7 linked regions of the Homo sapiens genome follow. The protein of the gene in region 6 purifies or fractionates together with the protein of the main gene of each other region. This does not show direct contact. Each region holds a gene or a part of one and is shown on either strand. Other genes may lie near its edges.

What was found.
Region 1: the proteins of NOP58 (region 6) and ZNHIT6 purify together in Homo sapiens (co-immunoprecipitation; 2 studies listed by BioGRID and IntAct, with this or other methods). This does not show direct contact.
Region 2: the proteins of NOP58 (region 6) and UTP14A fractionate together in Homo sapiens (co-fractionation; 2 studies listed by BioGRID). This does not show direct contact.
Region 3: the proteins of NOP58 (region 6) and AGPS purify together in Homo sapiens (affinity purification with mass spectrometry; one large-scale study listed by BioGRID and IntAct). This does not show direct contact.
Region 4: the proteins of NOP58 (region 6) and ITM2B purify together in Homo sapiens (co-immunoprecipitation; one large-scale study listed by IntAct). This does not show direct contact.
Region 5: the proteins of NOP58 (region 6) and NOL6 fractionate together in Homo sapiens (co-fractionation; one large-scale study listed by BioGRID). This does not show direct contact.
Region 7: the proteins of NOP58 (region 6) and DDX24 fractionate together in Homo sapiens (co-fractionation; one large-scale study listed by BioGRID). This does not show direct contact.

Annotation. Positions count from the first base shown.
Region 1 is NC_000001.11:85,698,434-85,701,933, forward strand, and holds part of ZNHIT6 (box C/D snoRNA protein 1), read right to left. Parts: intron 1-3,500. UniProt on the Homo sapiens protein: Required for box C/D snoRNAs accumulation involved in snoRNA processing, snoRNA transport to the nucleolus and ribosome biogenesis.
Region 2 is NC_000023.11:129,923,164-129,926,663, reverse strand, and holds part of UTP14A (U3 small nucleolar RNA-associated protein 14 homolog A), read right to left. Parts: intron 1,870-3,500; coding exon 1,469-1,869; intron 746-1,468; coding exon 552-745; intron 425-551; coding exon 325-424; intron 1-324. UniProt on the Homo sapiens protein: May be required for ribosome biogenesis.
Region 3 is NC_000002.12:177,497,273-177,500,772, reverse strand, and holds part of AGPS (alkyldihydroxyacetonephosphate synthase, peroxisomal precursor), read right to left. Parts: intron 3,085-3,500; coding exon 3,008-3,084; intron 1,156-3,007; coding exon 1,043-1,155; intron 1-1,042. UniProt on the Homo sapiens protein: Catalyzes the exchange of the acyl chain in acyl-dihydroxyacetonephosphate (acyl-DHAP) for a long chain fatty alcohol, yielding the first ether linked intermediate, i.e. alkyl-dihydroxyacetonephosphate (alkyl-DHAP), in the pathway of ether lipid biosynthesis.
Region 4 is NC_000013.11:48,257,206-48,260,705, forward strand, and holds part of ITM2B (integral membrane protein 2B), read left to right. Parts: intron 1-920; coding exon 921-1,031; intron 1,032-1,591; coding exon 1,592-1,742; intron 1,743-3,500. UniProt on the Homo sapiens protein: Plays a regulatory role in the processing of the amyloid-beta A4 precursor protein (APP) and acts as an inhibitor of the amyloid-beta peptide aggregation and fibrils deposition. Plays a role in the induction of neurite outgrowth.
Region 5 is NC_000009.12:33,463,925-33,467,424, forward strand, and holds part of NOL6 (nucleolar protein 6), read right to left. Parts: coding exon 3,470-3,500; intron 3,339-3,469; coding exon 3,190-3,338; intron 3,064-3,189; coding exon 2,988-3,063; intron 2,786-2,987; coding exon 2,645-2,785; intron 2,502-2,644; coding exon 2,384-2,501; intron 2,302-2,383; coding exon 2,147-2,301; intron 1,974-2,146; coding exon 1,810-1,973; intron 1,436-1,809; coding exon 1,283-1,435; intron 1,053-1,282; coding exon 955-1,052; intron 238-954; coding exon 113-237; intron 1-112. UniProt on the Homo sapiens protein: Part of the small subunit (SSU) processome, first precursor of the small eukaryotic ribosomal subunit.
Region 6 is NC_000002.12:202,282,763-202,286,262, forward strand, and holds part of NOP58 (nucleolar protein 58), read left to right. Parts: intron 1-1,582; coding exon 1,583-1,719; intron 1,720-3,500. UniProt on the Homo sapiens protein: Required for the biogenesis of box C/D snoRNAs such as U3, U8 and U14 snoRNAs. Part of the small subunit (SSU) processome, first precursor of the small eukaryotic ribosomal subunit.
Region 7 is NC_000014.9:94,071,203-94,074,702, forward strand, and holds part of DDX24 (ATP-dependent RNA helicase DDX24), read right to left. Parts: intron 1-3,500. UniProt on the Homo sapiens protein: ATP-dependent RNA helicase that plays a role in various aspects of RNA metabolism including pre-mRNA splicing and is thereby involved in different biological processes such as cell cycle regulation or innate immunity.

The sequences.
Region 1 (3,500 bases), on a different chromosome or scaffold from region 6:
TCATCACACTTCATATACGGGCTTTTACATTTAAAACTTTTTTTAAAAAAAATAAATGTAGACTTTATAGAAAAGTTACAAAAACAGTACAAAAGATTCTTCATTCAGATTCCTCAAAAGTGAAAACATGTAAATTTTAAGCGACATCAACTTGAGATTTTGACTATATTGCAACTCAAGTTGCTTAAACAAGCAATCAATTTAATACCTAGGGAGTATTAATAATCTTAGGACAAGACCAACTTCTCATATCAACAATTCCAAAATCTCCAAAACTGAAAGATTTTTAACTCCTTCAGCAGCAAAACCTAACTGAATAAATCTATAGTCATTATTTACCCATTATAAGGTAAACATTTATAGGTTTCACTGCACAAATAGTACTGTTTGATTACACAGTGCTATCCCAGACCTATGAGGGGTGAATGGAATATACAGTAAATGTGGCATATTCCTAAGGATTTCAGTGAAGGGAATGTAAATTTTCATTGTCACTGTATATTATTTAGTATGTGCCAGGTACTACTTTAGTTGGTATTAAAATTTCATTTAATCCTCTCAATAACCTGGTAAGTCAGATTTTGCCCAAGGTCACCTAATGTATAATCAAATAGTAGAGACAACATGAAAATTTACATTTATCAGAGTCAAAGCTATAACCAACTTTTGAAAAGTTAATAGAAAAAAGTATTGAAAACTAGTCTCTTAGAATACTGGGGGCATGGGAGCTGAACAGAATTCTTTGAAAAAATTTCATTTCCCCTTCTTCCCTCTTTCCAGCAAATACCATTGCAATCATCTAAAACCTTGCTCATTTTCATATGAACAGCTGATAAGACACAAATATCTCAAACAAAGTAACTCTTAAATGTCTATTTTTTCCTCTTAAAGGTGAAGTATAAAACACCAGAATCCTGATTCTGTCTACATTATGTTAATTATCTGGACCAAGAAAAGATTAGAACTATACATTCAATAAGTACATCTTCTGTATTTATGTAAATCAGTGCTTTTCAAATGGGGGTGATTCTGCCTCCTGCAGTGGACATCTGGCAATGTCTTAACAAGAAATTAAAAATCCAAGAGCTCAACCTCTCTAATAAAGCTGCCCACAAAAAAATTTGGTAATATTCAACAAAAGTTAAGGTATAACTAAAATAGGCACTCATACTTTCTTGATGAAAGTACAAAGTGGTAATGTTTTATGGAGACAATGTAGAGTTTTTCTCAAAAGTTTAAATACATTGTACTCTCTAATCCAGTAATTCCGCTTTCTAGGAATTGATCCTACAAAAAAAAGTCAGGTAAGCACACAAAACAATTTGTTCAAGGCTGTTTAATACCGTGTTATGTATAATAATTAAAAACAAGACATAAAATAAATGTTCATGAATATCGGAATAATTAAATGAAATGAGATATAGTCAAAGGTGGAATACCCTATTTAAAAAGAATGAGGCAGATTTGCATTAACAAGAAAAGAGGTTCACAATGTATTGCTAAATGGAAAATCTAGCTGCAGGAAAAAAGGAGGTGCATTTATTCATAAAAAATTAATGTTTAACTTGAGCAGAGTCATGTCACTTTATATAGTTTTAAGTATTTTATATTATGTTTTACTTTATTAGATGAAAAAAGGAGAAAACATGATTAGAAGGAAATGTTACGAAATTTTATTAGTGGTCAACTCTAGATAGTGGAATTATAGGTGATATTTTTCCTTTAAACTTTTTAATGATACAGATGTATTATTTTTACAATAGCTACTATAAACTGATTCCTTCCCACATGCCAGTTACTGCCTATGTGAATTAATACACTAAAAGGCCACAACTCTACAAGGTAGCTATCATGAGCTCCATTTTGCAGACGGTAAAAGACTAAGAAATGGATTCTAAAGCCTATTAGTACATACTATGTTGCTAATCTCCTCCTGGGAAACACTAAAAATGTAAGAAAACTGATCACAAATCTCTATAAATTTATGAGCAAAAGACTTATGCAAGAAGAATCTGATTTGCCATTTCAGAGACCCGGGGAGTTTCAAAACAACCAAAAATATATTAAACCTGGAAAATATACTGAGTGTAATATTCTCGGTAAAAACTTCCCGCATACATTCATGTACCTACAGACACAAAAATGTTATACTTGAGGCCATCTGCTTTTCATTACTGAGAACTAATCTCTGATTACAATCATTCTGAATAGTTTCTTTCATAAAACAGGAACACATTTTGTATTTGAGAAAGCACTAACCAGTTACCATAAACTTCTAACCAGTTACCATAAACTTCAAATTATGTCAATTTCTAAATATGCCAGTTTCAAAACGCACAAAAGAATCATCTCACATTTGATAAATGCAAGACATTACTTTACTTTTTTTTTGAGACAGGGTCTCATTCTGTCACCCAGACTGGAGTGCAGTGGTGCAATCTTGGCTCACTGCAACCTCCGCCTCCTGTGCTCAAGGGATGCTCCCACTTCAGCCTCCTGAGTAGCTGGGATCACAGGTGGGTGCCACTGCACCTGGCTAATTTTTGTATTTTTAGTAGAGACGAGGTTTCACCATGTTGCCCAGGCTGGTCTCAAACTCCTGGCCTCAAGGGATCCACCTGCTTCAGCATTACTTTACTTTTCGAAGACAACCAGGAAAAACGAAAAACCATTTTTACAAATGTTTATGTCTTATATAAAATAAATGGAAAACGTCATCTTCTAATTATGATAACAGCTTTGAAAAGATAGAAGCTTCACTAGAATAATGATAATTCTGATGGCTTTGTCTTTTCAATTTTTGGAAGAGTACAACTGGAAAGGCTCCGTAGTTTACCCGGGTCAACTCCCCACATCATACAACTGGGGCCCAGAGAAAGGAAGTTGATTTGTTCAAGGCCCCACAGTTACTAAGAGGCTGAAAAGGGAGGGACTCCCTCAAGTTTTTAAAAATTCTAAATCCAAAATCTTGACTTCTGAAAGGTATTATCTGATAATTTAGTTGGCTACTTAAAGAACTTTGGGATCCTGTTCTCTTCTGTACTCTTGGGGCCTTTTCAACCCAACATTTTCAGACAGCAGCAAACTAATCTCTGTTATATTATCTGTACTCAAGAGTTCAAAGTCCCCTTCTTCTACATTGACAGCTTTTAATTGAAATCTTATTTGGAAACCCAGTGGAGAAAGAAAATAAAAGCAGAGCTGCCTTGATTAAAACAGTACAGGCGTCCTGTTTTTACTCGTTTTGTCCTGGAAGCCCCTGAAATACTTTCTTGGTATCTTAGTTCTCAAAGAAACAGTTTATTTCTAATGTATGAGAGTGTTCCAGGGCGCTGCTACTCAAAATATGTTTCTCAAACAATGAGCATCATTGAGGAGCTTGTTAGAAATGCCCAATATCAAACTCCAACCCAGGCCTACTGAAAAATCACAACAAGCATACTTAACAAGATGCCTAGGTGACTGGTATGCACATTAATGTTTGAGAAGCTTCTCAAATG
Region 2 (3,500 bases), on a different chromosome or scaffold from region 6:
TCATTATCATGTGACACAACTTACAATCTTCTCATTCTCCTGAACAAGTACCGGTTTGTCTTCATTTTTCTTAAGCTACAGCTTAAACCTTATAGCCTCTGTTTGAGCATTACCTTGACTCTAAACTTTTTTCCTGGCCAGTAATTAAAACAGCGTAGTCTATCTGAAATGATAAATCTAACAGCCATTCAGTGAAAACAACAGATTTGATTCTGCGGTCAAGATCACACGTCTCTCTTGACTACAGATCACTAGAATACTCCTCTCAAGCAAGAGAGCCAGGCAGTAACAAGCAGGCAGCTAAAGAGCTCTCTAAGCTCTCACCTGATGAGCAGCTGCGTGGATGTTGCGCTTCTCATTGATAATCACATTTGGCAAATTCTTATCTTTTCTTGGAGGACCCTCAGGGGCTTTAATGAGAAACCTGGAAAGCAAAACAACAGGACATCTGACTAGGAGCATTAAGGACTTAGTCAAAAGGGTAGGGAGGACACCGAAGGGCGAGGGGAGAACCCGGTGCCCTTTTGACAGACTTTCTTCGGCATTCTTACCGGCGTCTTTTCTTGGCACTGGGCTTTAGGCCCACACCACCCCACTCGCCCCAGCCAGGTAGTGTCAGGTCCACGTCCTTTGGCTTACTCGCCTCCACAGCTTCCCTCTTCTCTTTCAAGAAATCTCTGATGACATCATCCCCAGCAAAAGCTTCCTTTATCATCTGCCTATGGTTTCTCTCCTCTTCATCTTCCTGGGAAGAAACAAGCGAGAGCTACAGCTTGGCTTATGAGCTGTGGTTCATGGCGAGAACGCTTGAATTTCGGGTCGTGACATTTTAGCGCCCCCTAGGGGGAAGTGCTGAACAATGATGGTCTTGCGATACAAACCAGTGCACAGCCAATCATGCTCAAATTTTCTTCCCTCTAGGGTAAATATCCCTAGCTCATTATCATATGACACAATTTTAAACTTTTCAGTAAGGAAGCTGCAGGGTGGAGGAAGGAATGGCCCGTGTTAGCAGCAGGAGCTCTAAGTGGCCAGACTGTAGGCTTCCTCCAGCTTATATCCCTGAAAAGACAGGTGCCAGGACGCTTCACTTTAAGTTTCAGATTAACTGGGGAGTCTTAGACCATCTGAGATCCCACTGAATAAAACTTTCGCAACAGTTCAATGACTCACCTTCAAGTTGTCCTGCCTGGGATCTGGTCAGAACTCTGAGTTACTCCCTCTTACCTCTGAGAGCAGTTTTAGAGTCACCCCAGAGGAGTTTTTGTGGATCAGGCTTTCGGAAATAGGGGTCTTGGCAGCACCCATATATCTGCATCTATTAAAACGTCACTGGGACTAGCCTGGCCCTATACTATTCTGGACCTCTAAACTACTGAAATGTGCCCCCAGCAAAACAAAGCTTCATTACTCCTTGCGCAAGAACGACACTTTCTGAACAATGGCCCACCACCCTGGCTCTGCTCACCAGCTCCTCTATTGTGGGAACTGCCAAAGACTTCACGGAGGGAGATTGTGTGGTTAGGAGGTTCTGTAGGTCGATCATTTGCTCCTTCTTTTTCTTCTCCTTAGGGGCATCAGGGCGATTATTTGGGGTCCTCTCTGACTGCTGCCCTTCTAACACAGGTCTGGGAAGCTCCTTATTTTGAAAACATTCTTCTTTTCCCAGCTCTTCTAGCTCTTCCAGCGTCTGTACTCTCTCTGGTCTCTGTAGCAACAGGGGCTCCTCTTCTTCTGGGGCAGGTTCCTCTCTCTGGACCTGGGGAATAGTCCCCTCTGAACTTGCTTTTTGCTTCCTGGACTGATGGTTTTCCTTCAATTTCTGAGATAGTACTCTCAATTCAGACAGCACCTCCTGGCTGCCAGAATCTGGGGGAAAAAAGAATGAAAACTGTCAGAAAATGAGGTTTGTACGTTGTCTGGTCGGTAAGCATTTGTTGAGCACCCACCAAGTGCTAGGTACCACATAAGACATTATAAAAAGGACAAACGGGGAAAAGAAGATTCTGTACATTGAATCTCCTAGACAGTACACTAATCATAGCAGGCAACGGAGTTTGGTAATTAAAAGTAGCATGTGGCCAGGTGCGGTGGCTCACACCTGTAATCCCAGCACTTTGGGAGGCCGAGGCGGGCAGATCATGAGGTCAGGAGATCGAGACCATCCTGGCTAACACGGTGAAACCCCATCTCTACTAAAAATACAAAAAATTAGCTGGGCATGGTGGCATGTGCCTGTAGTCCAGCTACTCAGGAGGCTGAGGCAGGAGAATCACTTGAACCAGGGAGGCAGAGGTTGCAGTGAGCCGAGATTGTGCCACTGCACTCCAGCCTAGGTGACAGAGCGAGACTCCGTCTCAAAAAAAAAAAAAAAAAAAAAGTAGCATGTGAGATGTTGGATATGGTGGCTCACGCCTGTATGCCAGCACTTTGGGAGGCCAAGGGGGCAGGATAGCTTGAGCCCAGGAGTTCGAGACCAGCCTGAACAACATAGTGAGAACTCATCTCTACCACCTCCACCCCTCCAACAACAACAAAAAATTTCCAGGCATGGCGGTGTGGATCTGTAGTCCCACCTACTTGGGAGGCTAAGCTGGGAGGATTGCTGGAGCCAGAAGGTCAAGGCTGCAGGAAGCTGTGACTGTGCCACTGCATACTAGCCTGGGCAACAGGGCAAGACGTCTCAAAAAAAAAAAAAAAGTAGCATATTGGAAGCAGACGTCCTGGGTCCTATTCCCAGCTTTGCCAATGATCCACTGTATAACTGGGACTGTGGCTTAAGTTCCTCGTGCAGTAAACCCTGCTTGGGAAGATTGCCCCAAGTTCCAAATTTTAAAAAAGGAAGCCACTTTAACAGGTGGCTTCTCAATGTAACTTCATTGTAATTTATGCTTCACTGCTTGTAAAAACCCTATCCAGGATTTTCATCTTGACTCAAGAATTTCTACTCCATATCTTAAAGCAGTATTTCATAATCTGCTGTGGCTGAGTCAAGGGATGAAGTAGCTGCTTTATCCAGTGGATGTAGCTCACACTTTCACTGGCAACATCTGAGCAAATAACACTAGTCTCAAGAGTCTGGAGGGGCTGGCTTGGCACAGTGGCTCACACCTGTAATCCCAGCACTCTGGGAGGCCGAAATGGGTGATTCACTTGAAGCCAGGAGTTTGAGACCAGCCTGACCAACATGGCAAAACCCTGTCTCTACTAAAAATACAAAAATTAGCTGGGCGTGGTGGCATATGCCTGTAATCCCAGCTACTTGCAGGCTGAGGCAGGAGGATTGCTTGAACCTGGGAGGTGGAGCTTGCAGTGAGCCGAGGTTGCACCACTGCACTCCAGCCTGTATGACAGAGACCTGTCTCAAAACAGTCTGGAGGGAAACCTGGCAGTGACATGCTTCTAAACTGTCTTTTTCATTGACTCAAGTTGCCTCCATTCCCAAGTTGATCCTGCTGTCTAGCTTTGGCATGAAGCCATTGTAGCTCCTTAGATCTGGC
Region 3 (3,500 bases), about 25 Mb from region 6:
ATGAATAAACTTTCTCTTTTACTGAAAAAATTAAAATTCCATTTGCCAATTTCAGAATAGGGTAAAAGTGAGACATTTTCAATACTTAAAAATAGTGCAAAAGAAAACTAAAATTTAAGTCTAAGATTAGACTATTTTCCCCTTTAAGAATACTGCACGTTAACACTAAATTCAGACAACCCTAGAAATAAAGGGCTAATATTAGATATGAAAAAAAATACATAAAAGTGGGGCATTCTAAAACACATGGGTCCAAATTAAGTGTTCATTTGTTTTCTTAAAAAACAATGAAAAAGAAATGAAAATAAATATTTACAAAGAACTAATATTAAGCATAATGTATATGATATATTTTAATCCCTGAAATCAAAAAAGAAAAGATTAGTGTCTAGAAACTGTTAGTTTATGTACTTTAAAAGGAAAGGAAAAAACATAGTCCTGATAAATGGCATTTTCACTATAGTTCTCATCAATCAGTCTTATAATCCATCAAGAAGACAGAGAGAAACCACCCTACCATTATTCAGTTGGTTATAGATGTGAAATGTTTTCTGTTTCTTTATACCAGCACAAAACAGTAAGTGACAGGGGGTGCAGTATAGATAATTTATCAAATACCTTCGATTAAACACAATTTCCTTTTAAAAACACACTAGTAGCACGCTTTATACATACACTATTATCACCACAGAGTAAGAGGACAATGAATTTTCTATTTTACTCTAGTAGAACAAATATCATGAAATTGACATTAATGTAAAAATCTAGGAAAAATACAATGTTTAATAATAATATATATATGATTAGACAAGAGCAACATATCAATCTAACTTCCTAAAAATTCTGGATGTAAACCAAAACAATATTTTAAGTTTACTATCATAAATTACCACAAATTTAACACTAAACTGAAATTAATAACTACTTTGAGACATGCAGTCTGTTTGGAGACATTAATGCCTAGTACTTTAATAATTGCTTGGTGATATTAGAATCTTAGCTTTTAACTCTTTCTCTTGGCATTATGAACTTGAAGCCATACCCAAATTTTGCAGCAATATCATACACTTGTTTTTCATGTTGAAGAACCTTCTCACGATCCCCCTCAAACAGTAATGTGGCTACACTTAGCTGATTTGGGTCAAATCCTTTAAACTACAAAAAAAAAAAAATTTATTATTACAGATAAGTCTTATCCTACAAAACAATAAATCAAAATACATTTTGCTCTTTTCCTTCTGATCTGGGCTCAAATACACTGATTTCTTAAAAATTGAGCTTTGGAACTTTACATGTCAATCACTAAGAATGTTTAATAAACCTATTTAGGTCATTACAACGTAGCAAAGCTATTCAGCATAGAAAAAAACACTTTATTTCAAAGTATGCCACAGTGTTAATCATAATAACATATTGCTTATGTAAATACAACAAATAACTTGTTGAAATAATAACTATGATAAAGAATCAAATAAAAAACTGCAGAATGATAGAATAAAGTAGCTGGATATATTGGGCGGGAAGCAAAAATCAACAACATCCCTACATACTAACAATAACTTCTTATTAAATAAAGTTTTCAAAGGCGATCTTATGCATAAAACAAAAACAGTATCTAACAATCTTAAAAAGAAATATATTAGGAAACATATCTAAAACACATCCAAAAAAAGATGAGTAAGACGTATGCTCCCAAATGCATAAACTAAGTATTATAAACCAGTCAATATTTCTCCAAATTAATGTACTAGTTTATTCCAATTCTAATTAAAAAACACAATGAACTTCCTAAAATGATGAAAAGTTTCTAAAATTTTTCTAGAATAATAGGTGATGGTGATAACAAGGAAAATTCTGAATAGCAAGAGGGAAAAATAGACCTACAACAATGAAATCTATTTAATTTTTCAAGAACAAAAAGCTCATTAAAAAAGACTGAGATGCACTAAAATGGAATCTATTTCTTAGATAAGTATATAAGATATGAGGCATAGCAAATCAATGTATGAGAAGCACAGATTAATTAATGGTGCTGCCACAACCGGTTAACAATTGGAGGAGCAGGAGGTGAAGATTAATTTAGATCTTTTTCACATAATAAAATTGAAATAAATACAAATAGTAATAAAGACTTTTTTTTTTTTAAATTCTCATTTAGTATAAGAGAGAGAGAGTGAAGAAAATGGCCCTGATCATATTACTGGAGGAAGGAAGGCTTTTCTAAGCTTAGACTATATTAAATAATCACAGGAAAAGATATAAAAATTTGAAACTTTTACACCAAAAAAGAAAAATCCCTATTAAAAAAGGAGATGCCTGACTGGGAAAAAAAATTACTTACAACATTTATGACAAAGGACATCTAATAATTCCAATCTCAAAAAAAGATACATCAAAGTACCAAGAAAAAAACATGAAGCTGCACACCCCCCACCACCACCTGGCAAAAATAACCATATCCAACGAATTCACACAAAAATTAGATCTAGAAAATAAAAAAAATGTTAACGTTCAGTCTCATTGGAGCTTCAAAAAACATGAACTAGAAGAAAGTACTGTTTTCCCCCTGGTAAATTAAAAATGTAACAAAAAGAATCCCACATGGAATAACAAGGATGCAAGGAAAAGAAGGCACACATGTATTATAAGATGGCTTAACACTCTAGGAAAAAAATTCAACAATCAAAGGTTAAAAAAAATCCACACTCTTATTTCACTTTATGGATACCTTCCATAAAGGAAAAAATTTAAACTATAGAAAATGTTATGAAAACAAAACTGTTCAAATGCAGTGTTATTTTTAGAAGCTTCAAAACTGGAAAAGAAATAAAATTTTCTGAAATTGACTGCCTGATTTACTTAATATTTATTCCAACATGAAAAACTGTAATTCTGAAATGTACATAGCAACATGGAAAAACACCCTTACAATAGGTGCATGTGGGAAGAAAGCAGAAAACAGATATCTTAAGCATTTACAATTTTAGCATTTTATAAAAATTCTTACCTTTGTAATATAAAACTTTTTTAATCCGTCCAAAAATGATGTAAAAATAGAGGAAACCTGAGGTTTAAGAGCATGACCTAAGAAGAGAAAAAAGTTTATATTAATAGGTTAGTCTATGTTTTTCAGAAGATCAAGAAGCTACTCCAACTTAGAATCCTAAAAGAAAGTAAAAGTTTTCACAACTTTAATTTTTAAAATCTTCCCGTGTTATTTACATAAATATTTATATTACGATATATAGTTATATTAATATTTGCTACTTTTATCTTCTTTCAAATGTCACAAACAACTTTTTATTTACAAAACCCATTATCAATTTGATTTTTTAAGTCAAATCACTATATGTAATTAATACTACACATAGTTTAGGTTTTCTTTCAACGGTATGGTTTACACATAATAAAATTACTTCATTAATTTTTATTTCATTAAGAACACCCATGGTGGCTGGTTTTACTTTTTTTTTTAATTATATAGAAACTATTCAGAACTA
Region 4 (3,500 bases), on a different chromosome or scaffold from region 6:
TGCTGTACTCACCTAGGTATTTGTGGACTGTAGTTAACTAAAGGTAACTGAAACTCGAGAAGCACAACCTCAGATAAGAGGGACTACTGTATTTAATATGTTTACATTTCTGTTTATGTTTACATTTCCCCAATTTTTGTCCCAAGAATTTTTTGTTTTTTCAAATCAGGATTCAGAGATTCAGAAGTTCATGTATCACCTGTGATTTTTATGTCTCTCTGTAAGCTTGCCATTTTGAACACTCGAATATATTACTGAAGTTAGCTTTGCAAACATTTCGTGCCTGATAAATACATCTGATGGATGTTTATAAACCAGTTTGAAAATTTACTTATTTCAAGGAAATAAACTTCCAAAGCAAATAGTAAATAATAATAGTTAACACTTACTGAGCTCTTAGGAATCAAAATGTTGACATTATTTGATTTAAGTTATTCTTAAAAACCGTTCTATGAGACAGTCTTTCTCAACCAGCGTTTCTCATTTGAACCACAGAACACAAAATCATTTAAATGACTGTTTTTCTAATGTTCTAAGGATGGTAGTATTCAAGATACATATGAGAAAATTTAATCTTTACAAACAATGGACAGATAACCTTAGAGGGCATTTGAGCTTATAAGTGGGGAAGTTAAATTGCTTAATTATATAATAAGTATTTGCAGTTAATTTGAATAGGTATTATTACTTATTATAGAAATATACCCTCGATGAGCATTTTATTTACTGGTAGCAATATTTTTTCCTCTCCCATTCCCACTTCCAACTTTATCCAGCCAAATTCTGAATTTGTTGAAATGCAAGTGATTTATACATTCTAAAGCCAATTCATTTTAATGATACAAATTATTCTTAAAAATCCAGTTGCTGCCTGTTTTTGCAAGTATTACTGTAACTACACTGTATCTTTTTCTTCCCAGAAACTTACAGCCTATTTAGATCTTAACCTGGATAAGTGCTATGTGATCCCTCTGAACACTTCCATTGTTATGCCACCCAGAAACCTACTGGAGTTACTTATTAACATCAAGGTATAAGAATGTTGACTGTTTTTGATGAATGATGCCTTCATAGTGTTCTGGAATTCCCTGTTGAGAAATTAGCCCTATAGGAGCCCATTTTATCAGACTGTAGTTAAGAATTTTACAAAGAGGAACTAATACTCATGGTTTTTGTTTTTAATGTTTTATATCTTGAAATTGAAATAAATTTCTCAAATAATGTTTTAAGTTTTCCTAAAGAGCCAGGGAGTAAATATTAGCCAACTACTTAATTCTGGTGCCATAGACAATACGTAAAACAGATGAACATGACTATATTCCAAAAAAAATTCTACTTATAAAAACAAGCCGGGGGCGGTGGCTCATGCCTGTAATCCCAGGACTTTGGGAGACCTAGGTGGGAGGATTGCTTGAGGCCAGGAATTTGAGACCAGCCTGGACAACATAGTGAGAACATAAACAAACAGATGGTGGGTAGTAGTTTGGCAACCTGTTCCATACCATAATGTGTAAGAATTTTGTCTTGTTTCTCTAGTCTACTCAGTGTATGTTCTGAGATAGTCATGTCATGTATTCTTTTCTGAATGTAGGCTGGAACCTATTTGCCTCAGTCCTATCTGATTCATGAGCACATGGTTATTACTGATCGCATTGAAAACATTGATCACCTGGGTTTCTTTATTTATCGACTGTGTCATGACAAGGAAACTTACAAACTGCAACGCAGAGAAACTATTAAAGGTAATACTTTTTAAATATTAAAGTGTTGGGCAGAAAAGTTCATTGCATTAAACTAGATTTAGGTGAAGCCTAGTCATTGTTACCAATATACCTGCCATGAGTGAGGTAATATTGTGTCGTTATATAATATTTCCAGGTTTCTATAGAATTATCTTAATTCCATTTAGTAAGTCCACTCTTTTCAGGTGGAGAGAAAAGGTCAATGTGAAATGTCATTGCCTTGAGATGATGGTACCTCATTTTCCATCTAGTTAGTCACCCTGTCCAACTTCCCATCCTACCACTTTGGTTGAGCCATACTGAAAGGGTTTTTATTATCCAGAGGGTGTCTTGGGACCAGCTCTTCAGCTGTGTTTTCAGGGATCTGGATTCTAAGCAGGCTGTTTGCCTTTTGGATCATATTGGGAATAATCACTGTCAGGGTAGTTGGAAAGGAATTTGGGTGAAGAACTAAGAGCATTGATACAACTAATGTTGTAGCTTTGCCAAATCATTTAACTTTTATTTTCTCACCTGAAATATAAGAATTACAGTATCTCCCCATTTCCTTTTAAGAGCATTGTGAAAATAAAAAGAAAGTACATGTGGCAGCTGTGGAAAGTAAGAAGTGCCATTCAGATACACTGTGGTGTGATTTCTTTGGAATTGTGTCACCCAGTAAAAGTGCTTTCCTGGCTTTTTGCTAGCATTTTAAATAATACTGTTCTCTCATCTCCGGCGGTTGAGTCATCTGAAACCAGCTTGATTTCTTTTTTTTTTTTTTTTCCAACTTTTATTTTAGATTCAGGGGTACATGTGCAGGTTTGTTACAAAGGGTATATTATCTGATGTGAGGTTTGGGGTACAGATGATCCCATCACTCAGGTAGTGAGCAAAGTACCCAATAGGTAGTTTTTCTTTTCTTTTCTTTTTTTTATTATACTTTAAGTTCTGAGTTACATGTGTACAATATGCAGGTTTGTTACATAGGTATACAGGTGCCATGGTGGTTTGCTGCACCCATCAACCTGTCACCAAATTAGGTATTTCTCCTAATGTTATCCCTCCCCTAGGCCCCCACCTCCCGACAGGCCCCAGTGTGTGATGTTCCCCTCTCTGTGTCCATGTGTTCTTATTGTTCACCTCCCACTTATGAGTGAGAAGATGCAGTGTTTGGTTTTCTGATCTTGTGATAGTTTGCTGAGAATGATGGTTTCCAGCTTCATCCACGTCCCTGCAAAGGACATGAACTCATCCTTTTTTATGGCTGCATAAAATTCCATGGTGCATATGTGCCACATTTTCTTAATCCAGTCTATCTTTGATGGACATTTGGGTTGGTTCCAAGTTTGCTATTGTGAGTAGTGCCACAGTAAACGTACATGTGCATGTGTCTTTATAGCAGCATGATTTATAATCCTTTGTGTATATGCCCAGTAATGGGATTGCTGGGTCAAATGGTATTTCTGGTTCTAGATCCTTGAGGAATTGCCACACTCTCTTCCACAATGGTTGAACTAATTTACACTCCCACCAACAGTGTAAAAGCGTTCCCCAATAGGTAGTTTTTCAACCCTTACCTCCTCCCTCCCTCCCTCCCTTCCTTATAGTCCTCAGTATGTATCATTCCCATCTTTATGTCAGTGAGTTCCCAGTGTTTAGCTCCTATTTATAAGTGAGAGCATTGTAAGGTAGGTATTTGGTTTTCTGTTTCTGTGTTAATTCATTTATGATAATGGCCTCCAGCTGTATCCATACTGCTGCAAAGGACATGATTTC
Region 5 (3,500 bases), on a different chromosome or scaffold from region 6:
GGGGTACAGACACATCAGACTGGAACTGAAGTGGGTCTCTCCCAGGTCAGGCTGGGCCTGCTTTTTCCTTGGGAAGAAAACCACACATTAGGGGGCAGGTATGGGGTTGAACCTGGGCTGAGGGTCCATCCTGTGTCCACACAGAGTTTTTGCGGTCTTGGGGGGTAACAATGACCATGACGGGGAGCTGTGCCCGAGCTGCCAGGAAGCCACTGCGGATCTCCACCTGCTCCTCCACTAGAGACAAGAATGGGTCCTGGGTCAGCCTGCTCCTCCCTGTAAGACACCCTCTACTCCCCCAGGTCCTCCTACGGTGCCCCCAACGGCTGCTCATCACAGGTATTTTTCAACACTCCCCCCCACCAAGTGGCAAAGGTGACGAAAGGGACATCGCATTTGCCTCAACTGGGTGGGGCATTAATCGCCCAACCTCAGCCCAGAGGCAAAATTTTCCACTGCTTGGCACCCCCAGTCTGGTTTCCGGGCCTGCACAAGCTGAGTCTTGCCCCTGGCCCCCTCCCACCATGGGCTTCCACACACCTGGGGAATTAGGAACCTGACACCCTGCTCTCTGCAGAGACCGAGTGCCTCACGTTACAACCAGAAATCACCACTCCCACCCCCACCAAGAGGTCTGAGTATCTGTGCTACACTTCCTAGCTCCGTGCCCTAATACTTCTTACGTGGTATTCAGGATCCCCCTTCTATTCTCCTCTTCCTTCCACAGCCCCCCGCCAGGTAGCTTGCTTACCACCCTATCATTCTGTCTCTGACAATTAAGAGCAAACCATGTCATAATGGTCAGGCTGTTCACCTGGACCTCTTCTTCATGTCAGGCTTAGACATCTGGGGCTGGGGAGGCACAGAGAAAACCTAACACTGCCAGGGAAACCCTTGCCTGCAATCCATAAAGAGCTGTTCTTCCAGCAGTCTGACCCCTGTTCTACCACTTACCAGTGAGCTCATTATTGAGGTTGACAAAGAGGGGGTTGTTCTTCCAATCAAACGTTGATACCAAGAAAAGGAATCGAAGGAAGCCAACCTGGGGGGAACTAAAGGGCTGGAGTAAGCAAAGAATCCAGGGCCCAGCCACATATCCCCAGGCTTCTCTCAGGCTATGGAGCTCAGACCCCCTGGTGTGGATTGGCAGGGCAGGGCATCTTAGAACCCCTTCTGCCACTTGCTCAACCACCCATTCCCATGTAGACTTAGGGTGCAGCACGAAGGATGATGGCTGGCCGCAAGGAAACTTCTCAGCTGGGGAAAAAGTGGAGGGAATCACCTCGGAGGGGTGAAGGGCTCAGGGTGCAGGAAAAGGGCAGCGGCCACCAGATCCAGGCTCTCATCAGCGAAACCCTCACCAAGAAGCTGGGCACGCACCCACCGCTTGGCCAGCCGTGCCACACCAGAGAAGGCTGGGTGCTGCTGCTGCAGTCTGCAGAGAGAAGGGGAGTGTCAGCGAGACTCAGGGCCCCACTGCCACTGTTCATCCAGCCCCTACCCAAGGCCAGCCTCAGTGATAATAGGTTACATATGTAATCTCATATTCTCTTAAGAAATGCACCAAGAAGTTGACCCTAGTGTTATTTCCATTTTACAGATGACAAATATAGGGACCAAGGAGGAAAATCTGACCATAGGGTCACAGTCAGTAAGTGGCAGAGCCAGGATTCCAGAACCTGCCTGACTCCAGAACTCATACCCCTAACTATGATACCATCTGGCCCCTGGAGAGACAGGTGGCTAGGTGAGGAGAATGGGGGCAGGAGGGGGCCTACAGACAGGAAGAAGCTGTGTCAGTGGCCTTACCCGTGCAGGGCACTGGTGAGCAGTGGCAACTGCCTTGTGTCTCTCTCAAGGCGGAGGGAGGCAGCTGTGTCCCTCAGCGAGATCATCCCCTCTGGGCTCTGCACCTCCTTCAGGATCTGGGGCTCCCGCTGATAGGCCACGCGAATCCGAAACACAAATCCATCCTGTTGGAAGAAGGTATGGAAAGAGAAGGATGTGTCAGCCCAGAACCCCGGGAGTACTCTGTGGCCTACAGCCCTATTACCCAGCGTGGTACCCACAGGGGTGTCTTCTTCCACGCCCTGACATCCCTGGTGCCCCCCTTCCCTGGGGACATATCTGCCTGCACCAGCCTAACCTTAAGGACATCCGTGTGCGTGGCAGTGGCACGGCACTGCAGACCATGCTGTTGTGTCAACAGCTCTGCCAGGCGCAGCTGGAAGGCAGCTCGGACCCGCTGCACGGCCTCAGCGTCCTGTGGCCACTGGCCACTGCCCTCCAGGTGACAAACCACTGAGGAAGAAGAGTCAGAGGTCTCATACTGTGGCCTGGAGCTGGAACTATCCCTCCCACTCCCTCCCAAGGGCCCTCTTACCGGTCATGGGCTCCACGTAGGCCGGACAGGGCTTATCGAGCCGGGGCAGCAGTGAGGACCGCTCCCGCAGAGTCTCATAGAAGGAGAAGGCTGGACGGACTGGAGTTGGTGGGAACACCTGTGGAAGAAGAGGGGCTGAGGAATGGGCCTAGGACTGGGAGGGAGTGCCCAGAGTCAGGAGTTGGAAGTGGGGAATACTGGGTGACTGGAGCAGAGGTGGGGCCACTAAGCAGAAAGGTCACCTGCACCGTTGCACCTCACCTCTGTGTAGCGCAGCACTGGGTGAGCTCCCTGAACAGCAGACACGGTCAGTGGGAGACCCTCTAGCCCCCACAGTAGGCGACTGAGGTCGTCGTAGCAACGTACCGCCGCTACCAGGGCCTCCTCACCTGTGCTGGAGGTCTGAGAGGGAGAAGACGGTCAGGAGGCTGGACCCTACAGAAGGCCAGCTTCACCTGGATTCTGCCCCAGCTCAGGCTGCAGCAGAGCCAGCACCGCCGCCTGCTGGACATGCCAGGAAGTGCAAGCTGGCCAAGGCTGAGAGGACTCTCTCCCCGCAGATTGATTACTCTACAATCACTAGCCTTGACCCCAAGACCCTTACCTCTTTCAGGCCTTGGATAAGTGCATCCAGGGGGCCCCCCACATAGTGGACACAGGTTTCTGGGATGTCAGCATGGCTGAAAAAGAGGCAGAGACACAGTGAGAAAATTTGGGGCTATGTTCTCGCTCAACTGCCTGGGCCAGACCCCTGAAAAGGCTCCCCAGCCCACACTGCCTTCTGGAATCCAGATGCCAACACTCACAGTGCCAAGAGGTGGGTGACCACCTGGTGGGGAATAAGGCGCTTCTGGGACATAGAGGCTGCCTCCCAGACCACAGCTTCCCGAATGGCTCCGTCCTGGAAACGCCGAAGCTCCGAGCGGGATCCCCAGAACTGGCGGAATTTAGCAGCCTGAGGAGGCAAGGGTGGTAGTAGAGCTGGGGAAGGAAGGGCTCTGTGGACCCTCCCCAACAAGCTTCAGTCCAGGTGCCATGAGGACGAGCCACCCCATTCCTTCCAGTGTACATGCTGGGGTCCCCCACCTCAGGCTGGTCTGCCTCTGGACCCAGCTCA
Region 6 (3,500 bases):
TCTAGCCACATTTTTTTCCAACGAAAATGGGGTCCTTATATTTTTTAGAAATATATTTATTAGAAAACTTTTAGTAGGGGTGTATTGCTGGAGATGAAATAAAATGTGAGAGTGGAAAGAAAGACTAGGAAAATAGCCTCCCAAATACAGAAAGCAGAACAATTCGGGCGGGGCGCGGTGGCTCACACCTATAATAATCCCAGCATTTTGGGAGGCCAAGGTAGGAGTATCACGAGGTCAGCAGATCGAGACCATCCTGGCTAACACAGTGAAACCCTGTCTCTACTGAAAATACAGAAAATTAACCGGGTGTGGTGGCAGGCGCCTGTAGTCCCAGCTAATTGGGAGTGCAGTGGCGCAGTCTCACAGCTCACTGCAGACTTGACCTCCTGTTCTCAAGCAATCCTCCCTCTTCAGTAGCTGGGACTACAGGCACATGCCACCATGCTGGCTAATTATTTTATTTTATTTTATTTCATTTATTTGAGACAGAGTCTCACTCTGTTGCCCTGGCTAGAGTGCAGTGGCATGATCTCGGCTCACTGCAACCTCTGCCTCCCGGGTTCAAGGGATTCCCCTGCCTTAGCCTTCCAAGTAGCTGGGATTACAGACGCCCGCCAACACGCCCTGGCCTCCCAAAGTGCTAGGATTACAGGCATGTGCCACCACGCCCAACCTGTAATTTTTTTTTTTTTTTAAGACGGAGTCTCACTCTGTCGCTAGGCTGAAGTGCATTGGCTCAGTCTTGGCTCACTGCAACCTCCGCCTCCTGGGTTGAAGTGATTCTCCTGCCTCAGCCTCCCGAGTAGCTGGGACTATAGGCACCTGCCACCACACCCGGCTAATTTTTGTATTTTTAGTAGAGACGGGGTTTCATCATGTTGGCCAAGATGGTCTCGATCTATTGACCTTGTGATCCACCCGCCTCGGCCTCCCAAAGTGCTGGGATTACAGGCGTGAGCCACCGCGCCTGGCATAACCTGTAATTTTAAAAAGAAGCTAAATAACAGGTAGTAAAAGATCTCCTTAAACCAACTACTTGGTCAAATTATATTAATCTTTTTATAGCTTTTAATTTATATAGCCAAGCTGTCTTCTGGAAGCTTGTATCAGTTTTTACTTCCACCAGTGATACAGTCAAGTATTCTACAAACACACTGGAAATTATGCTTCTTGTCCAACTGAGAAATGCGTATATTTAAATTAGTGCCACTTTAATATTTAGGAAATAATTTCAGGCTGGGCGCGGTGGCTCATGCCTGTAATCCCAGCACTTTGGGAAGATGAGGCGGGCGGATCACTTGAGGTCAGGAGTTTGAGACCAGCCTGTACAACATGGTGAAACCCCGTCTCTACTAAAAATACAAAATTAGCTGGGCATGGTGGCTCATGCCTGCAATAATCCCAGGCCGAGACAGGAGAATCTCTTGAACCCAGGAGGCGGAGGTTGTAGTGAGCCAAGATTGCGCCACTGCACTCCAGCCTGGGCGACAGAGTGATACTGTGTCTCAAAAAATAATAATAACAACTTCAGGAAAGTCTTTTTTTTTTTAATTTAATATAGATGTTCATGTTCTTGTAGGAAAAGCTGAATCTCAGTTGTATCCATAGTCCTGTTGTTAATGAACTTATGAGAGGAATTCGTTCACAAATGGATGGATTAATCCCTGGGGTAGAACCACGTGAAATGGCAGCTATGTGTCTTGGATTGGCTCACAGGTGAGAATTACTGGAAAATAAAGTCAACTTACTTTTATTTGATAAGCGCTTAACATAGATCTGTTCTAAGAATGTTACAAATGCTCATTTGAACCACATCAGAACCTTATGAAGAAGATGATAGTAATATCCTCATTTACAGATGAAACTGAAGCCCAAGGTCAATACAGCTGGTAAGTGGTAAAGCCAGGATTTGAACCCAGGCAGTCTGGCTCTATTGTCTGGATTCTTAAAACCTTAAAACCTCATCAAAGGAATTCTCTACTACTCTGATCTTGGATGCCCTGTTTCTTGGGCTTTCCCTCCTTTATCTCTGCTAAGTCATGCCACTCCTCCATCTACTTAGTATTCCCCCAAATTCTCTCATCTGCTATGGTCTTATGGGATAGGTGTGTATTTGTGTTTTCATTGCTTTACTCTGATTTTTAATAAGGCAAAGAGGACTAGGTGCAGTGGCTCACCCCTGTAATCCCAACTCTTTGGGAGACCAGGAGTTTGAGACTAGCCTGAGCAACATAGCAAGAAATATGTCTCTCTCTGTGTTTTTTTGTTTGTTTTGTTTTTGTTTTGTTTTTTTTGAGGCAGATTCTCACTCTGTCGCCCAGACTGGAGTGCAGTGGCGTGATCTCTGCTCACTGCAGCCCCTGCCTCCCAGGCTCAAGTGATTTTCTTGCCTCAGCCTCCGAGTAGCTAGGATTACAAGCGTGCACCACTACTGCCCAACTAATTTTTGTATTTTTAGTAGAGACGGGCTTTCACCATGTTGGCCTGGCTGATCTTGAACTCCTGACCTCAAATGATCCATCCGCCTTGGCCTTCCAAAGTGCTGGGATTATAGGCATGAGCCACCACACCCGGCATTTTTTTTTTTTTTTTTTTTTTTTTGAGTCAGGGTCTCACTCTGTTGCTCAGGCTGGGGTGCAGTGGTGCGATCTTGGCTCACTGCAACCTGGACATCCTGGACTCAAACAATGCCACCTCAGCCTCCCAAGTAGCTGGGACTGCAAGTGTGCGCCACCATCCCTGGCTGATTTTTTAACTTTTTGTAGAGACGGGGTTTTGCCATGCTGCCCAGGCTGGAACTCCCAGGCTCAAGTGATCCACTTGCCTTAGCCTCCCAAAGTGCCGCGACTGCAGGGGTGAGCCACCATGCCCAGTCTTCTCCCTATTTTTAATTGCATGTTAACCCTATCATATTTCATTAGAAGTCCCTTAGAATAGGCATTATTGCTATGTTGTGATACATCTGTTCATGAAAAGCTTAATACTTTGGAATTGCACTACAGTTAACAGGGTTGTGAAGAAAATAATGGTAGGTAGTTGCTCAAAACCTGTGCAACTTTGTAATCAGTACTGTCAAATAGTAATCCTAATAAAATTATTACCACAGTTCAAAAGACATTTTAAGCTAATATTAAAAGAAACACTACAGGCTGGGCACGGTGGCTCACGCCTGTAATCCCAACACTTTGGGAGGCCAAGGCAGGCAGATCACAAGGTCAGGAGATCGAGACCACGGTGAAACCTCGTCTCTACTAAAAATACAAAAAATTAGCCGGGCACAGTGGCGGGCGCCTGTAGTCCCAGCTACTTGGGAGGCTGAGGCAGGAGAATGGCGTGAACCCGGGAGGCAGAGCTTGCAGTGAGTGGAGATCGCTCCACTGCAGTCCAGCCTGGGTGACAGAGTGAGACTCCATCTCAAAAAAAAAAAAAAAAAAGGGAGAAAGAAACACTATAGGCCAGGCGCAGTGGCTCACGCCTGTAATACATCCCAGCACTTT
Region 7 (3,500 bases), on a different chromosome or scaffold from region 6:
AATAGACAATTATCAAAAGAAGATACACAAATGGCCAACAAACATGAAAAAATGCTCAACATCACTAATGATCAGGGAAATGCAAAGCAAAACCACAATGTGATACCACCTTACTCCTGCAAGAATGGCCATAATCAAAAAATCAAAAAACAGTAGATGTTGGCAGCCAGGCACGGTTGCTCATGCCTGTAATCCCAGCACTTCCGGAGGTTGAGGTGGGCAGATCACCTGAGGTCAGGAGTTCAAGACCAGCCTGGCCAACATGGTGAAACCCCATGTCTACTAAAAATACAAAAATTAGTCGGGCATGGTGGCAGGCACCTGTAATCCCAGCTACTTAAGGAGGCTGAAGCAGGAGAATCACTTGAACCTGGGAAGCGGAGGTTGCAGTGAGCCAAGATTGTGCCACTGCACCCCAGCCTGGGCAACAGAGTGAGCCTTTGACTTAAAAAAAGAAAAAAAGCCGGGCACAGTGGCTCACACCTGTAATCCCAGCACTTTGGGAGGCCGAGATGGGCGGATCACCCGAGGTCGGGAGTTTGAGACCAGCCTGACTAACATGGAGAAACCACGTCTCTACTAAAAATACAAAATTAGCTGGGTATGGTGGCGCATGCCTGTAATCCCAGCTACTCGGGAGGCTGAGGCAGGAGAATCACTTGAACCCGGGAGGCAGAGGTTGCAGTGAGCCGAGATTGCGCCATTGCACTCCAGCCTGGGCAACAAGAGCGAAACTCCATCTCAAAAAAAAAACAATGTTGGCATGGATGTGGTGAACAAGGAACACTTCTATGTCCTGGTGGGAAAGCAAACTAGTATAGCCACTATGGAAAACAGCGTGGAGATTCCTTAAAGAACTAAAAGTAGAACTACCATTTGATCAAGCAATCCCACTACTGGGTATCTACCCAGAGGAAAAGAAGTCATTATACAAAAAAGATACTTTCACACATAATTTTATAGCAGCACAATTCACAACTGCAAAATCATGGAACCAACCCAAATGCCCATCAATCAACGAGTAGATAAAGAAACTGTGGTATATACAGGATGGAATACTATGCAGCCATAAAAAGGAATGGATTAACAGCATTTGCAGTGACCTGGATGAGACTGGAGACTATTATTCTAAGTGAGGTAACTCAGGAATGGAAAACCAAACATCGTATGTTATCACTGATATGCAGGACTAAGTTATGAGGATGCAAAAGCATAAGAATGATACAATGGACTCCGGGTACTTGGGGGGAAGAATGAAAGAGGGGCAAGGGATGAAATACTACAAATATGGTGTAGCGTATATTGCTCGGGTGATAGGTGCACCAAAATCTCACAAATCACCACTAAACTGGCACAGTGGCTCACGCCTGTAATCCCAACACTTTGGGAGGCCGAGGTGGGCAGATTACTTGAGTTCAGGAGTTCAAGACCAACCTGGCCAACGTGGTGAAACCCTGTCTCTACTAAAAATGCAAAAAGTAGCCGGGCATGGTGGCACATGCCTGTAGTTCAGCTACTTGGGAGGCTGAGGAAGGAGGATGGCTTGATCCCAGAAGGTGGAGATTGCAGTGAGCTGAGATAGCACTACTGCACTCCAGCCAGGGTGACAAAGCAAGACTCCGTCTCAAAAAACAAACAAACAAAAAAACTTGCTCATGTAACCAAATACCACTTGTACACCAATAACTTATGGAAAAATTTAAAAAAATTAAAAATAAACATCTAAACATAGAAAAGGAAAAAAAAATTTAAAATAAAAAACAGAAATGTGAAAAAAATAAATAAATCAGGTATGCTATCAGTCAAAAAATAAATAAGTAAACCCACCATTATCAATAATCATTAAACGTAAATAATCTCAGTAACTCAATTAATTTTCTTTTCTTTTTTTTTTTTTTTTTGAGATAGAGTCTCACTCTGTCACCCAGGATGGAGTGCAGTGGCACAATCTCAGCTCACTGCAACCTCCGCCCCCTGGGTTCAAGCAATTCTTGTGGCTCAGCCCCCCAAGCAGCTGGGACTACAGGCACATGCCACCACGCCTGGCTATTTTTTTGTATTTTTAGTAGAGACAGTTTCGCCATGTTGGCCAGGCTGGTTTTGAACTCCTGGCCTCAAGTGATCCACATGCCTTGGCCTCCCAAAGTGCTGGGATTACAGATGTGAGCCACCATGCCTGGCTTCAATAATTCAACTCAAAGACACGAACTGTCTGATTAAACAGCAAGACCCATTTATATGCTGCCTATAAGAAATTCACATTAAATATAAATAAGGGAAAGTAATAGTATTGAAAAACACATACCATGCTAACCCCTTAATCAATAAAGCTGGACTGGCTGCATCAATACCAAAGGACATTTTAGAACAAAAAAAAATTACTAAGGATAAAGGGGGCCATTTCATAACGATAACAAGCCAATTCATTTAGAGGATATAATAATAATCTAATATTTTAATCCATAAAACATGTATTCACATAAACTGATTGTCAGAATACATGAAACAAAAACTAATAGAACTGCAAGTAGAAAACAGTCACTCAAGAAAAAAATAAGTGGCCGGGTGTGGCGGCTCATGCTTGTAATCCCAGAACTTTGGGAGGCCGAGGCGAGCAGATCACGAGGTCAGGAAATTGAGACCATCCTGGTTAACACGGTGAAACCCTGTCTCTACTAAAAATACAAAAAATTAGCCGGGCATGGTGGTGGGCACCTGTAGTCCCAGCTACCTGGGACGCTGGGGCAGGAGAATGGTGTGAACCCAGGAGGCAGAGCTTGCAGTGAGCTGAGATCGCACCACTGCACTCCAGCCTGGGCAACAGACCGAGACTCCATCTCAAAAAAAAAAAAAAAGAAAAAAATAAGTAACACAAATATCTCTAATCTATTAAACAAAGTAAATTTGTAGTCAAAAATCTTCCTACAAAGACAAGTGCAGGCTCAGATGAATTCTACCAAAAATTTAAGTTGGGTATAAAATGTCAATCCTGTATAAATTCTTTCAGAAAACTGAACAGAATACTTCAGAAATCATTCTGAAGCTACATTACTGATTCCAACACCAAAACATTACAAGAAAACTACAACTATCCCATGAACATAAGTTCAAAAATTCTCAACAAAATTTTAGCAAATCAAATCCAACAAAATATAATTAGAATAGTATATTGTGACCAAGTTCAGTTTATCCCAGGAATGTAAGTCTAATTTCATAATTGAAAATCAATGTCATTCACCACATTGGCAGACTAAAAATGAAAAACCACCTATTTCAATATATGCAGTAAAAAAGCATTTGAAAAATATCCAACATCCAACCCTGATAAAACCTCTCAGCAAATGAGAAATCAAAGAGAACTTCCACAACGTGATAAAAAGCACCTACAAAAAACCTACAGCTAAGATCAGACTTAATGGTGAAAGACTAAATGTTTTCCCCAGAAGATCAAACACAAAGCAATAATGCCCACTTTACCACTACAATTCAAAATTCTGCTA